Homo sapiens: one gene and its partner. The protein of the gene in region 2 interacts with the protein of the main gene of each other region in a pairwise test. Each region holds a gene or a part of one and is shown on either strand. Other genes may lie near its edges.

Region 1 (6,229 bases), on a different chromosome or scaffold from region 2:
CTCCAAAAGTGATCCAGATAAAACGTACACCGAGTTTTGTCATCTTGCCATAGCCAGAAACTTACTAGGATGCTTCCTTTGGCATGGACATAGATCGTCTCAGTCTCTGCTCTGCCCATGCTATTACCCATGTGCTTTAATTTTTCAGTCACTTCAACACTTCCTGGTTGACAGTCCAGAGTTCCAGAAACCACTGACTCTCCAGACACCACCTTTCACTGGGTACCACACTGGTGTGTTTTTCTACTTAACAAACACTTCACTACTCTACAAGACACGGATATTGTGTGAGAACTTGCATGGTGGTGTCACAATATTAAAATGAAAAGTTTGTACAGAAATATAAAAAGGTTTTCTTCTAAGACAAGTAATAGTAGGAATGTTTTAACTTCAACTAGGAAACTTTCCCCAAGGGTGAAAAATAAAAACATTTAGTCCATTAATGAATTGTAATTTTGTATCTTCCACACAGCACATTGTAATTGTTACATCAGTTAACAAATGCAGGTTTGTCTGTTCTCCAGTTCAGTAGTTTGCTTTTTTTTTTTTTTTTTTTTTTTTTGAGGTGGAGTCTCACTGTCACCAGGCTGGAGTGCAGTGATGTGATCTCGGCTCACTGCAACCTCCACCTTCCGGGTTCAAGTGATTCTCCTGCGTCAGCCTTCCGAGAAGCTGGGACTACAGGCACGATGCCCAACTAATTTTTGTATTTTTAGTAGAGACCGGGTTCACCATGTTGTCAAGGATGGTGTCGACCTCTTGACCTCCAAAAGTGTTGGGATTGCAGGCGTGAGCCACCGCGCCTGGCCTTGCCTTTTTTCTTAAAACCGAACTGTATCTCTGCTGGGGGCAGTGGTTCACTCCCTACATGACAGTCAGCTCCTCTCACCCAGCATGTCCTTTGATATCCCCATCACTCCCCAGTTGAGGGTCTCATCCACACTCAGTCTAGGCTTTGGTTAGCCTCCATAGAATCAGATAGTCACCAACCACACAGCATATGAACTTCATCCACAAAAGACCACAATTTGCTTTATCAAGTCTGATCACTGCAACAAGTCTTTTTCTAACAAAAAATCTCCTTGAGAGCAAATCACTAAATGTTCAGTAATAGAGAAGACACTAAGTAAATACATTGCCGAATAAAGATGTCTTCGTTTACCCTCTCACAAAGTACAATCCTTCTTAGTATTTCTTCTGAGAGTGATAAAGTCAGCTTGTGTCTTGTGTTATAAAGGAATGTTTTAACTTCAATTAAGAAACTTTCCCCAAGGGTCAAGAAAGTAACAAAAATATTTAGTCCATTAATCGAATTGTAATTTTGTATCTTCCACACAGTACATTGTAATTATTACATCAGTTATCAAATGCACATTTGTCTGTTCTCCAAGTTCAGTAGTTAGCCTTTTTCTTAAAACTGAACTCTATCTATGGAAAGGCTTTCCATTCATAGACAACTTGAATTTAGCTGGATGTATTACAGACTGTATGAAGCAACTCTTGTACCACTGGGGGCCCACCCTCCGCCTGAGACTGTGGAACATGATTTATGGGGGTGGGGGTGCATGAATGGCACACAAATGATGAGTAATTACTAGTGAGAGTAATTCTAGTATGTAGAATGAAAACAGGAATGGTTAAATCATTTTGAAGAGAATGAAGAAGTAAATTAACAATGCATTGCAAATACATTAGATTTTAATCTTTAATATCTAACATTATTGCTTTAGGAAAGTATTTCCCTGAACCAAGAATACAATGCTAATTGCATAAAAACATACACATATAAAAAGTAGTTCTCCATTTTCCCAGGAAAAAATCCAAGTATAACTTCTAGAATAGTCAAGTTTCTTATTTTTATTATAATTAAAGTCTTGGTCATTTCATTTATTAGCTCTGCAACTTACATATTTAAATTAAAGAAACGTTATTAGACAACTGTTACAATTTATAAATGTAAGGTGCCATTATTGAGTAAATATATTCCTCCAAGAGTGGATGTGTCCCTTCTCCCACCAACTAATGAAGCAGCAACATTAGTTTAATTTTATTAGTAGATGATACACTGCTGCAAACGCTAATTCTCTTCTCCATCCCCATGTTGATTTTGTGTATATGTGTGAGTTGGTTAGAATGCATCAACAATCTAACAATCAACAGCAAGATGAGCTAGGCTTGGGCTTTCGGTGAAGATTGACTGTGTCTGTCTGAATCAAATGATCTGACCTATCCTCGGTAGCAAGAACTCTTCGAACCGCTTCCTCAAAGGCTGCTGCCACATTTGTGGCATCTTTTGCACTTGTTTCAAAATAAGGATAGTCGCCGTTGTCCCTGCACCAAGCTTGGGCTTCTTCTGTAGACACCTGCCGTTCGCTTATGTCAATCTTGTTACCCAGAATCACAAAAGGAAAGCTCTCAGGCTCTTTCACATCTGCATAATATATGAATTCTTTCTTCCAGTTACTTAAGTTCTGGAAGCTTTGTGAATCATCGACACTAAAAGTAAGCAGGCAGCAGTCAGAACCTCTGTAAAATGGTGTCCTCAGGCTTCGGAATCGCTCCTGACCTGCCGTGTCCCAAATCTGCATGGTAACAAAATGTCCATCCACTTCCAAATCTTTATTTAAAAATTCCACACCTATTGTATGGAAGAGCTGGGTATCAAACTTATTAGTTACATATCTGTTCATAAGTGAACTCTTCCCAACTCCACCATCTCCAAGGAGAATTACTTTAAAAAGTGATGATTTTCCTGCCATTGTTAATCTCAAAAGCTTCAAGAACCCTGTAAAATAAAAAGGCACCATTACATTCCTTTATACCTACACATTCTTCTACATGATTCTACGAATATCAGCATTTAGCTGAAATAAAACATATGGCCCCAGGGAATACCTAATAATAAGACTTGTTGTTTACTGAGCACTTAGCCATGTGCAGGCTACTATTCTACCATTATTCTCTGAAACAGCTGGGAAGGGCTCACTCTTCCCTTTTCTCAGGTCACAGTTGACTGTGAAGCTGGCACTCAAGCCCAAGTCTGACCCCAAAGCCCTTGCTCTGAACCGTTACTCTATGATAAGCCCCTCTCTGCTCATAGTAAGCCCCACCATTTGTTAGAGATGGGTAGGAGACCAAAGTTCGCATGTTGTTGTTGTTGTTGTTTTGGTTTTGTTTTTTTTTTTGAGACAGGATCTCGCTGTCACCCAGGTTGGAGTGCATGGGACCATCTTGGCTTACTGCAGCCTTGAACTCCCAGGCTCAAGCAATCCTCCCACCTCAGCCTCCCAAGTAGCTGAAATCACAGGTGCACACCACCATGCCTTGCTAATTTTTCTATTTTTTTGTAGAGACAGGGTCTCAACCACGTTGCCCAGGCTGGCTTCAAACTCCTGGGCCCAAGCAATCCACCTGTCTTGGCCTCCCAAAGTGCTGGGACTACAGGCGTGAGACACCATGCCCAGCCCACATGTTTCTCTTAACAACTTCAAACAGCCCTTCAGTGCACAGTGATGGTGTTCACTTAAGGCCTCTCTCCTACCAGGGACTTTCTCTACTACTCCCTCCACCTCTCTTCAGACACAGGTGCTGTTAACCAGGAAAGCCAGAGACAGAAACTGACTTACCTGGCTGTGAAATAAAGTATGAACCAACCACTGAGTAAATGGACTTTATTCTCTTCATTAAGAACATTATTTTGAATTTGTTCAAATTAATGTCAGCAGCAATGGAATTTTTAATATAATCTAGCACATTCTATCCACAAGATTCACTTGGGCAGTTCAAACACTTAAGGAACATGAGACTGCTGCTACTTGTGTGTTTTCAGGTAGAATGAAATAAACCTTAAATGAAAATGTGGTACTATATGTGTTCTTTAGAAGTCCTGTGGCAGGATTAAAAACTTTACTACACTACAAGAGCCAGCCTGTGGGGGGTGAGATTTCAGATGCCCGTTGACAGACAGCTACTTCTAGGTGCTGGTGGGAGCACAGTTCCTGGTTAATCCTTCTGCTTACATTTTTATTGTGAAAAATGTAAAACATGTACAAAATTTCTATATAATGAGTACAATACAATGAGCTCCCATGAACTCTAAACCCAGCTTCACAATTATCAACTTATGGCAAATCTTGTTTCCTCCATAACCCCTCCAACTCTCCCTTCTCCCCAGTTATTTCGAATCAGATTATATCATTTAATCTGTACTTTAGTATTAAATGGTTTTTAAGTATACTAAAATGTATATAAGAAGATAACTATTAGAGCAGCACTGTACAAGAGAATTTTATGCAACAATGGAAATGTCCAATATAGCAGCCACTTAGCCGCATGTGACTGTGGAACACTTGACATGAGGCTGATGGAAGTGAAAAACCGCATTTTAAATTTTATTCAATTTTAAATAAATAGCCACATTTAATGAGCCAATTGGAGAGCACAGATCTAGAGCAAATTTGGTCAATAACCTTAATAGGAAAGTAGGTATTATGAATCCCTCCATGGGAAGGCAATAAAGACATGAACAATAATTGTTATATTGACCAGGATGAATTTGTAAAATCACTGCAGTAAACATTATCTGGCTGTCTCCTGGTTATATGCAATGTGAGCAACTATAGTGTAACTGAACACTTACTGTAACATGTAGGAATTCTGCACTTCTAGCCACATGCTCCACTGTTCTGATAAAAACCTTGTAGTGGCTTGTATAGTGAGAAATCAAGTGAATGGGAAATACTATTAAAAAATGATGGGACATACCTTAGTCCCTACCTCTTACTGGTTCTTTCAAATTACTACTACAGGCCAGGCACGATGGCTCACACCTGTAATCCCAGCACTTGGGGAGGCTGAGGCGGGCAGGTCACTTGAGGTCAGGAGTTCGAGACCAGCCTGGCCAACATGGTGAAACCCCGTCTCTACTAAAAATACAAAAAAAAAAAAAAAATTAGCTGGACGTGGTGGCAAGCGCCTGTAGTCCCAGGTACTAGGCTGAGGCAGGAGAATCCCTTGAACCTGGGAGGCGTAGGTTGCCGTGAGCTGAGATTGCACCACTGCACTCCAGCCTAGGTGACAAAGCAAGACTCCATCTCAAAAAACAAAACAAATTAATACTACAGTAATTACTACTATAATTAATATTAATACAATTTAAACTGTCCAACACAAGTGTGTGGCAGTTAAGGTGCATACCTTTTGAGAGACTTTTTCAATTTCAAATGTATTGCTCAATATCCAGACTATTAATGTTAAAGAGGAAACTGCAACAGTCCCAAGCCCCTTACTTTCCTGACATAGGTAACAATGTGCTAAATTGGCTGCTTTAATTCTTTGGCATCTTGCTTCAACAACTTAAAAAGAAAAGATTGAAAACCATAAAAGCAAACCAACTATTTTGACATAGGGGAACCATCTATCTAATGTCTCCTCAGAATTCTTCAGCGGGTTGTTTCCCAGAGATCCAGGACTAAGTCCAACTTCTAAGGCAAGACACCTGGCCCCTGCTCTTGGCCAGCCTCACTCTAGCCACCTTCCCCTCACAGTCTCTGCTTCAGTCATTCTGAATGCACCATCACCCGGAACTAAAATTCAATTCCACTCACTCAGCACACCCCACACCCTCTTGCCTCCACCCTGGCATATGCTGCTCCTTGCTGGTGACCCCCCCAATGAACCGCTGTGCCTTCAGAACTGCTTAGCATGGTCACCTCCACTGGGAACCCTGCCCCAGCAACTCTCCCAATGTTGTTCCTTTCACACAATTTCCATGTTGTGTTATGAGAGTACAACAGACATAATTTATTCCAGTATTTTAATAAGTCTCTACTGATCTAACAGCCTTACCAGACACAAAGTTTTACTGTACATCACTGAATTTTTAGCATCTTTATATCAAATTATAAGCCAGATCATGCAATCTAACAAACCCCACCCAGACTATTGGTTGCATATATCTACTAAATTAAGTTGTAGAAATTCCTTGAAAGTGGTAATTTGTAATTTTTCCAAGACACTTTGACAGTTCTTTTTTCATAATAATGTGGGACTTCTTAGTTTGTCTCATTCTGACCAAATGAATTTGGGGTATGCCAGCCCACCAGGAAACAGAGTATAGGGTACAATTTTTTACATTTCCCATCTACAGTTTGAGGCCTACCAGATATTCCTATTTGGGAATATATTTGCATTTGCTAAAATAATTAATTTCTACATGAATATCTCTCTA
Region 2 (8,860 bases):
CAACTGTTAAATACAGTTATCTGGGGAGGAAGGGAATTATAAGAAACTAATACCTTCTTCCTTATGTATTTGTGCAATGTTTGTAGACACTTATGGCAAAGGAGGAAAAGATAAATTACAAGTACACAGCATGAGGCCAGGTGCGGTGGCTCATGCCTATAAGCCCAGGACTTTGGGAGGCCAAGGCAGGTGGATCACTTGATGTCAGAAGTTCAAGACCAGCCTGGCCAATATGATGAAACCCCGTCTCTACTAAAAATACAAAAACTAGCCCAACATGGTGGTGCCTGCCTGTAATCCCAGCTACTTGGGAGGCTGAGGCAGGAGAATCACTTGAACCCAGGAGGTGAAGGTTGCAGTGAGCAGAAATCACACCACTGCCCTCCAGCCTGGGCAACAGAGTGAGACTCTGTCTCAAAAAACAAAAAAAAAAAACAAAACAAAATACACAGCATGGAGGAGAATATCTGTGTAGAGGGCCACCTGCTTCACTGGCAAGAGGTTAGGAGAAGCTCTCAGGACCCTGGATGGTTTCAATAACGGATAGATCAATGGCCTAAACTTTAATCTCCCGCGGAAAGGACTCTCCCAGAAATCATCCTTATTCACCTGCCTCAAATGGAAGTTCTAGGATGTTTGCACCTGGAATGAGCAACACCAAGGAGGATAGGGCTGGAAAGGAGACTTCACCCAAACCAACCGGCCCTGCTGCCTGGTTTAGACCCTCAAGGAGGAGAGCTCGGGGCCCAGAGTTGCTCATTCTCTATTGCATGGCAGTTCCCAGATCCCAGGCTTAGAAACCTGTTTTTTTGTTTGTTTGTTTGTTTTTTGTGTTTTTTTTTTGAGATGGAGTCTCGCTCTGTCGCTCAGGCTAGAGTACAGTGGCGCGATCTTGGCTCACTGCGACCTCCACCTCCTGGGTTCAAGCGATTCTCCTGCCTCAGCCTCCTGAGATGGGATTACATGCATGTGCCACCATGCCCAGTTAATTTTTGTATTTTTAGTAGAGACGGGGTTTCACCATGTTGGTCAAGCTGGTCTCGAACTCCTGATCTCGTGATCTGCCCGCCTGGGTCTCCCAAAGTGCTGGGATTACAGACATGAGCCACCACACCTGGCCAAGAAACCTGTTTTATCAGCAGAGGTGGCAACCCAGAGAGCTTTCTGTCATGAGAAAAGCTCTACTGCTTCCGTTGGACAGAAGGGCACTGCCAGCTCCAGCAGCAACACACTCCTGCCGTGGTGGTGAATCCTGATGCCTGAGATGGGCACTGGAGACTCCTGAGGTAGGAATGACCCAGCCAGGAGCCCCACAATCCCTGCAAATGCCAACCTTCTTCTCCCCACAACTGTCACGAACTGAACACCAGCTCTTGCCTTTCCACATTAAGGCTTGTGTGGACCACTCTGCCTCTTACTCAATGTTTCCAGACCTAACATTTGTGTCAGCTGGCAGCAGAATTTTAGTTTTGCTGGGAATTTCTTTTCACACTGGGCTCCAGCTGGATGAGTTCTGAGGGAGACCACTGCTCCATCTGAAGCTCCGGAGTGTTAGCCATAATGGCAGAATGACCACAGACAGTCAGCCCCGTCTGAACAGCCTGTTGCTGCCAGATGGTGACCTGTTTCTGTTAAACCCCAGTGAGTTTCTGCCTGGCCTCAAATCATCACACAGGGCCTTTCAATCTGGATAGGCCTAAGCCATGGCCAAACCATGGAGAGAGCGAGCCCAGGTTGTTCTGTGATGGGATGGAAAGGACCACACAGTGTCACAAGGTTTCCAACAGAAACCTGACGTCAGAGAAGCATTTCGTAAAAGGAGAACCATATCTTAAAAGTGAACGGGCATGGGTCCGGGTGAGATGGCTCATGCCTGTAATCCCAGCACTTTGGGAGGCCAAGGCGGGCGGATCACTTGAGACCAGGAGTTCAAGACCAGCCTGACCAACATGGTGAAACCCCATCCCTACTAAAAATACACAAATTAGCCAGGTGTGGTGGTGGGCACCTGTAATCCTAGCTACTCAGGAGGCTGAGGCAGGAGAATCTCTTGAACCCAGGAGGTGGAGGTTGCAGTGAGCCGAGATTGCGCCACTGCCCTACAGCCTGGGCAACGGAGAGAGACTTTGTCTCAAAAAAAAAAAAAAAAGTGTGGCTAGGCACGGTGGCTCGCGCCTATAATCCCAGCACTTTGGGAGGCCAAGGCAGGTGGATCACTTGAGGTCAGGAGTTCAAGACCAGCCTGACCAACATGGTGAAACCCCATCTCTACTAAAAATACAAAATTATCTGGGCATGGTGGTGCATGCCTATAATCCCAGCTACTTGGGAGGCTGAGGCAGGAGAATCACTTGAACCAGGGAGAAGGAGGTTGCAGTGAGCCGAGATCGTGCCACCGTGCTCCAGCCTGAGTAACAAGAGCAAAACTCCATTAAAAAAAGAAAAAGTGAATGGGGCATGGACACAGTGGCTTGCACCTGTAACCCCACACTTTGGGAGGCTGGAGTGAGAGGAAGGCTTGAGGCCAGGAGTTCAAGACCAGCCTTAGCAACACAGGGAGACTCAGTCTCTACAAAAAAACCAAAAAACGAAAAAAGTGAATGGGCAGGGCTCAGAAAAAGCAGTTATCACTTCTCCACTAGTATCTCCTCCTGAGCCTGGGTGGAGTTACTCATGGGGTCAGGATCCCTCTGTGCACGACATGGTTTCCGGGTTAGGGACCTTCAGGTCCCTCCCCGCCCTCACCAGACAGCCTTTACTCTGGGAGAGAGGAAAGAAGGGAAATAGCTACTGAGAATTTAGGAAAAGGAGGAAGAGGAGCAGGCAGAAGGCACACTGACCCTTAACACTTCAGTTTGTAACGTGTGTGTAGATACTATTTTATGTAAATCTTTGTCCTGGTGACTCAGGTCCTTAGGGATTTTGAGAACATTTAAAACTCTTATGAGTTTTTCTGTAAAGCCACAGAGAACAAAACTATTGATCTAAACCAAATAGTCAATACAATTTTTACATCTACCTACCTACCAGTCCCTCTCCAGGAATGAGCTACCCCAGCTAATTTTTTTTTTCCCCCGCCGAGACAGGGTCTCACTCTGTCACCCAGGCTGGAGTGTAATGGCATGATCCTGGCTCACTGCAGCCTCGAACTTCTGGGCTCAAGTGACCCTCCTGCCTCAGCCTCCTGAGTAGCTGGGACTATAGGCATGTGCCACCATGTCCACCTAATTTTTTATTTTTATTTTTGAAGACACAGGGTCTCATTATGTTGCACAGGCTGGTCTTGAATTCCTGGACTCAAGTGATCCTCCCACCTCAGCCCCGCAAAGTGCTGGGATTATAGTTGTGAGCCACTATGCCCACTGCCTCGCCTCCCCGCCCCCAGCTAATTTTTTTGTACTTGCAGATCTAACCTATCTCAGGAGTAGAAAAATGAGAAAAAGTTCACCATGCAAGGCAGCCTTTTCAACTGCACAGACAGGCTGGGCTGAACAACAGCTGTGGCTCATTCACCAGCGCCAGTAAATCCCGATCCCGACTAGGGACTGGGAGACTCCTGCTCAAGGCAGTGTGCCTGGCCAGAAATAGAACTTCACTCAGAGCCGACGCCGGTGAGGCACTGTCTGCCCAAACCGAAGTGGGTGGGAGACTGAGGCGAGAGAAGGTTGTCAGGACCCAGGAACTGAGAGATGGTTACCCTATTACAATTCATTTATCCCTTTTAAAGGGTAGGAGAACAGGGGCAATTACTTTTCATTTTATGTACTTCTGAGCTATTTGTGTGTTTTTAAAAACAACTATTTTCTTAGAATAATTTTACGGCCAAGTGCAGTGGCTCATGCCTGTAATCTTAGCACTTATGCAGGCCGAGGTGGGAGGATCACCTGAGCTCAGGAGTTCGAGACCAACCTGGGCAACATAGTGAGACCTTGTCTCCACACTAAAAAATTAAAAATTAGCTGGACGTGGTGGCATATGTCTGTAGTTCCAGCTACTCAGGTGGCTGAGGCGGGAGAATCGCTTGATCCCAGGAGTTGAAGGCTACAGTGAGCCATGATGGTGCCACTGTACTCCAGCCTGGGCCACAGAGTGAAACCCTGTCTCAAACAAACACACACACAAAAAGAATCATTTTTCATTCTCTTATCCTACTCAGTGTCCCTTGCAGGATGCAATGTCATTGCCTTAGGGAATCTTCCCTGATCGTCTCCAAAGCAAACCTCCCTGCCAATTCTTTATCACATTGCTTTAATGCCTTCATAATGCTTACCATGATCTGAAATCATCTCTGTATTTGTCTACGAATTTATCACCTTCTTTTTCTTCTAGAATGTCAGCTCCATGAGGGCAGATACTCATCTGCCTGTTCATATGAACCTTCCTAGGGCCTATGATGGTGAGGTTCTAGGGAAGGTGCTCACTAAATAGTTTTGAATAACTGAATACAGGGACACATGATGGGATTTACAAGTGTCCACATTCACTCCACAAGCCTAATGTGCAAAAACACAGCTACAATAGAGATTTGGTTAACTATAGCACTGGTGCACCAACTTCTCTGGAAGTAATCCCTGGCCTACCTTGGCAAGGACTTTTTCATATGAACACATGCGTCGTATGCGAACTACTGCCTGTGGGCTAAAACCAGCCTGATACCTATTTTTGTAAATAAAGTTTTATTGGAACAAAGCCACACTCATACACATTTGGTTGCTTTTGAGCAGAACTGAGCAGTTTCAACAAAGACTATACGGCCTGAAAATATTTGCCATGTGGCCTTTTAAGAAAAAGTTGGAGCTTGAAGAAACAGCAGTGTAGTATAAGACTCTCACTGAAGCCGGAGGCAGTGGCTCACGACTGTACTTTGGGAGGCCAAGGTGGGTGTATTACTGGAAACCAGGAGTTTGAGACCAGCCTGGCCAACATGGTGAAACCCTGTCTCTACTAAAAATACAAAAATTAGCAGGGCGTGGTGGTCTGTGCCCGTAATCCCAGCTACTTGGAGGTTGAGGCACGAGAATTGCTTGAACCCAGGAGGAGGGGGTTGCAGTGAACCAAGATCATGCCACTGCACTCCAGTCTGGGTGACAGAGCAAGACTGTCTCAAAAAAACAAAACAAAAAAAAAAAAAACCTCGGCTGGGTGCGGTGGCTCACACCTGTAATCCCAGCACTTTGGGAGGCCGAAGCAGGCAGATCACCTGAGGTAGGGAGTTTGAGGCCAGCCTGGCCAACATGGCGAAACCCTGTCTCTACTAAAAATACAAAATTAGCCAGGCGTAGTGGCTCATGCCTGTAATCCCAGCTACTTGGGAGGCTGAGGCTCGAGAATCACTTGAACTTGGGAGGCGGAGGTTGCAGTGAGCTGAGATCGTGCCACTGCACTCCAGCCTGGGCAACAAGAGCGAAATTCCGTCTCAAAAACAAAAACACAAAAAACACCACCACTCACTGAAGACTGCACAAGGGTGATCTGCAGAGTCCACAGAGACGCTTGCAAGTAGTAATGGTGGCTTTTATTTAGGCCTGACTGTAAGCAAGGTATTGTGCTAAGTGCTGTAAGTGTGTTCTCTCATATAATTGAATTATCATTATAGCATTAGTAGAAGGTTCTCACTGCTGATGCGAACAGTGGTCCAGTCATCTGCCAGGATCGAGATGGTCAGTTACAAACCCAGACCCAAGTCTGCATACCGCTGAAGCCTGCGTTTGTGTCCACTAGGCTACATGGCTTCCACAGAAAGCACCTTCCAGCCGCATCTTGCAGAACCCTTGGCAATCTTAAGACAGGTCCCTCTTAAGACAGGTCACGCCTGTCCTCGGAAGACCATCTGGAAGGCCCCACTTCCTTGGGGATGCCTAGGCTGTTTCTTCTGTCTTGAATGCCTGCTTCTTCTCTTTCTCTGAACTCTACCAGTATTTCTTTCTTTCTTTTTTTTTTTTTTTTGAGACGGAGTTTCGCTCTTTTTGCCCAGGCTGGAGTGCAATGGTGCCACAACTCACCACAACCTCCGCCTCCCGAGTTTAAGCGATTCTCCTGCCTCAGCCTCCCGAGTAGCTGGGATTACAGGTATGCACCACCACACCTAGCTAATTTTGTATTTTTAATAGAGATGGGGTTTCTCGATGTTGGTCAGGCCGGTCTCGATCTCCTGACCTCAGGTGATCCGCCCGCCTCGGCCTCCCAAAGTGTTGGGGTTACAGGCATGAGCCACCGCGCCTGGCCAGGAGGTTGCTTCTTATGGCATATAGTCTTTGCTCATTCTGCAGGCATATGCAGCAGACACACCAGCTCCTCAAAAACAGAACTTGGGAAAATCACTGCCTGCCTTCCCTCCCCTGGAGAAGATGTTATTTAGTAGAACCACATGCTGATTCAAAAATGCCAAAGCTGTCGTTGACTTGGACATTTCTCTTTAACAAATCGGCAACCACAGGCTTTACTGGCAGCATCTGGGATGTTTCTGCTACTAGCTCCCTTTCTAGAATTGAATATGAATTGAATTTGCTATTGTTATCATTTCCTTTTTTTTTTTTTTTTTTGAGACAGAGTCTCCCTCTGTCACCCACGCTGGAGTGCAATGGCGCGATCTCAGTTCACTGCAACCTCCACCTCCCAGGTCAAGTGCTTCCCTGCCTCAGCCTCCCAAGTAGCTGGGACTACAGGCACGCGCCACCACACCCAGCTAATTTCTGTATTTTTGGTAGAGATGGGGTTTCACCATGTTGGCAAGGCTGGTCTTGAACTTCTGGCCTCAAGTTATCCATCCACCTTGGCCTCCCAAAGTGCTGGGATTACAGGCGTGAGCCACCATGCCTGGCCTATTGTTATCATTTTCATTTAATCATGTTAATTATTAAACTCTCCAGTTCTCTCTCACCCTCAGGAATTCTGTGTCCATATCAGAACACAGGTTGCCTTGGATTCAGATGGATTAACAGCTGTTTCACCTGTCTGGTGTTATAATGGGTATTCACCATCACAAAATCTAAGTGTGAAAATAGTTGAACTCAACAATACTCCTTGGGGATAGTGGTTGCTTTGAGGGTGTAGTTTCTGGGAGGGGAACGAGGGGCCCTCTGGGATAATGGTCATGTTCTGTTTCTTGGTCAGGGTGCTGGATATGCAGGTGTTTTCACTTTGTGAGAACTCATTAAGCTGTCCGCTCAGGACCTGTACACTTTCCTGTAGGCATGCTTCATTTTCATAAAAAGTTCTAAAGTACTCTTTGCAAATATAGAAATACACAATGGATCTTTCCTTGCAGAAATATGCATCTCATTTTCTTCACGTAAAATCCTTATAAAATGACCAGTAAGACCATTTACTGGTGGTAGGATGCAAGAAAAAAGGCAAAGCAACTCTCAAGGTGCTATATAACACATTTAGGTGAGACTGGCATTCAAGGACAAATCTGACCCCAAGACTGCTGTCCTCAATGTCTACTGCTGTAGCCAAACTAACAGGTTCCTAGTAAAGCAGACACTCTGATTCAGAAAACCAAATGTAATTTATGATGCAAGAATCACATCGCAGTTGTCTCAAACAAACACACAAAGGAAGTGGCTACCAAGAACAAATGGTGTTGTAGAACGACCTTTAGGTGGTGAGGCAGTTGAGCCATCTTCAAACCTTGTAAAATTGAGGAATGGGCTCTTGCACAAAGAAAAAAGCTACCAGTTAAGACTGGGCCAGGATCCATGCTAAACACTCTACATGTTTATTAAAACTTCACCATGCCTGTAATCCCAGCACTTTGGGAGGCCGAGGTGAGCGGATCATGAGGTCAGGAGATCGAGACCATCCTGGCTAACACGGTGAAACCCCGTCTCTACTAAAAATACAAAAAAATTAGCCGGGCATAGTGGCGGGCGCCTGTAACCTGTAGTCCCAGCTACTCGGGAGGCTGAGGCAGGAGAATGGCGTGAACCTGAGAGACGGAGCTTGCAGCGAGCTGAGATCACGCCACTGCACTCCAGCCTGGGTGACAGAGCAAGACTCCATCTCAAAAAAAACAAAAAACAAAAAACAAACAAACAAAATCTTCATAACACAGCCTGACCAATATGGGCGAAATCCCATCTCTACAAAAAATACAAAAAGTAGTCGGGCACGGTGGCTCATGCCTGTAATCCCAGCACTTCGGGGGGCCAAGGCAGGCAGATCACTTGAGGTCAGGAGTTCAAGACCAGCCTGGCCAACATGGGGAAACCCCATCTCCACTAAAAATACAAAAATTAGACGCTGGGCGCCGTGGCTCACGCCTGTAATCCCAGCACTTTGGGAGGCCGAAGCGGGCAGATCACAAGGTGAGGAGATCGAGACCATCCCTGGTTAACATGGTGAAACCCCGTCTCTACTAAAAATACAAAAAAATTAGCCGGGCGTGGTGGCCGGCGCTTATAGTCCCAGCTACTTGGGAGGCTGAGGCAGGAGAATGGTGTGAACCCATGAGGCGGAGCTTGCACTGAGCGGAGATCAGGCCACTGCATTCTAACCTGGGCGACAGAGCGAGACTCCGTCTCAAAAAAAAAAAAAAAAAATTTAGCCGGGTGTGGTGGCGCACACCTGTAATCCCAGCTACTCGAGAGGCCGAGGCAGAAGAATCGCTTGAACCTGGGAGGTGGAGGTTGTAGTGAGCCGAGATCACACCACTGCCCTCCAGCCCAGGCAACAGAGCAAGACTCTGTCTCAAAAACAAACAACAACAACAACAACAACAAAAAAACACTCCACAACATCCCTAATTTTATCCCTGCTTTACAGATGAAGAAACTGGGCATGGAGAGGTTAATAAGCCTGACCAAGGTTACAGGGTTATTAATTTGGCAGGGCGGGGATTCAATCAGGCAGCTGGACT

Evidence for each region. The genes of interacting proteins can lie anywhere in the genome.
Region 1: the proteins of PLEKHM2 (region 2) and RAB9A interact in binary tests that used the Homo sapiens proteins (3 or more experiments, as listed by UniProt).

What each region holds. Positions count from the first base shown.
Region 1 is NC_000023.11:13,705,277-13,711,505, reverse strand, and holds the end of RAB9A (ras-related protein Rab-9A), read right to left. Parts: intron 2,786-6,229; 5' UTR 2,760-2,785; coding exon 2,154-2,759; 3' UTR 1,002-2,153; downstream 1-1,001. UniProt on the Homo sapiens protein: The small GTPases Rab are key regulators of intracellular membrane trafficking, from the formation of transport vesicles to their fusion with membranes.
Region 2 is NC_000001.11:15,686,332-15,695,191, reverse strand, and holds part of PLEKHM2 (pleckstrin homology domain-containing family M member 2), read right to left. Parts: intron 1-8,860. UniProt on the Homo sapiens protein: Plays a role in lysosomes movement and localization at the cell periphery acting as an effector of ARL8B.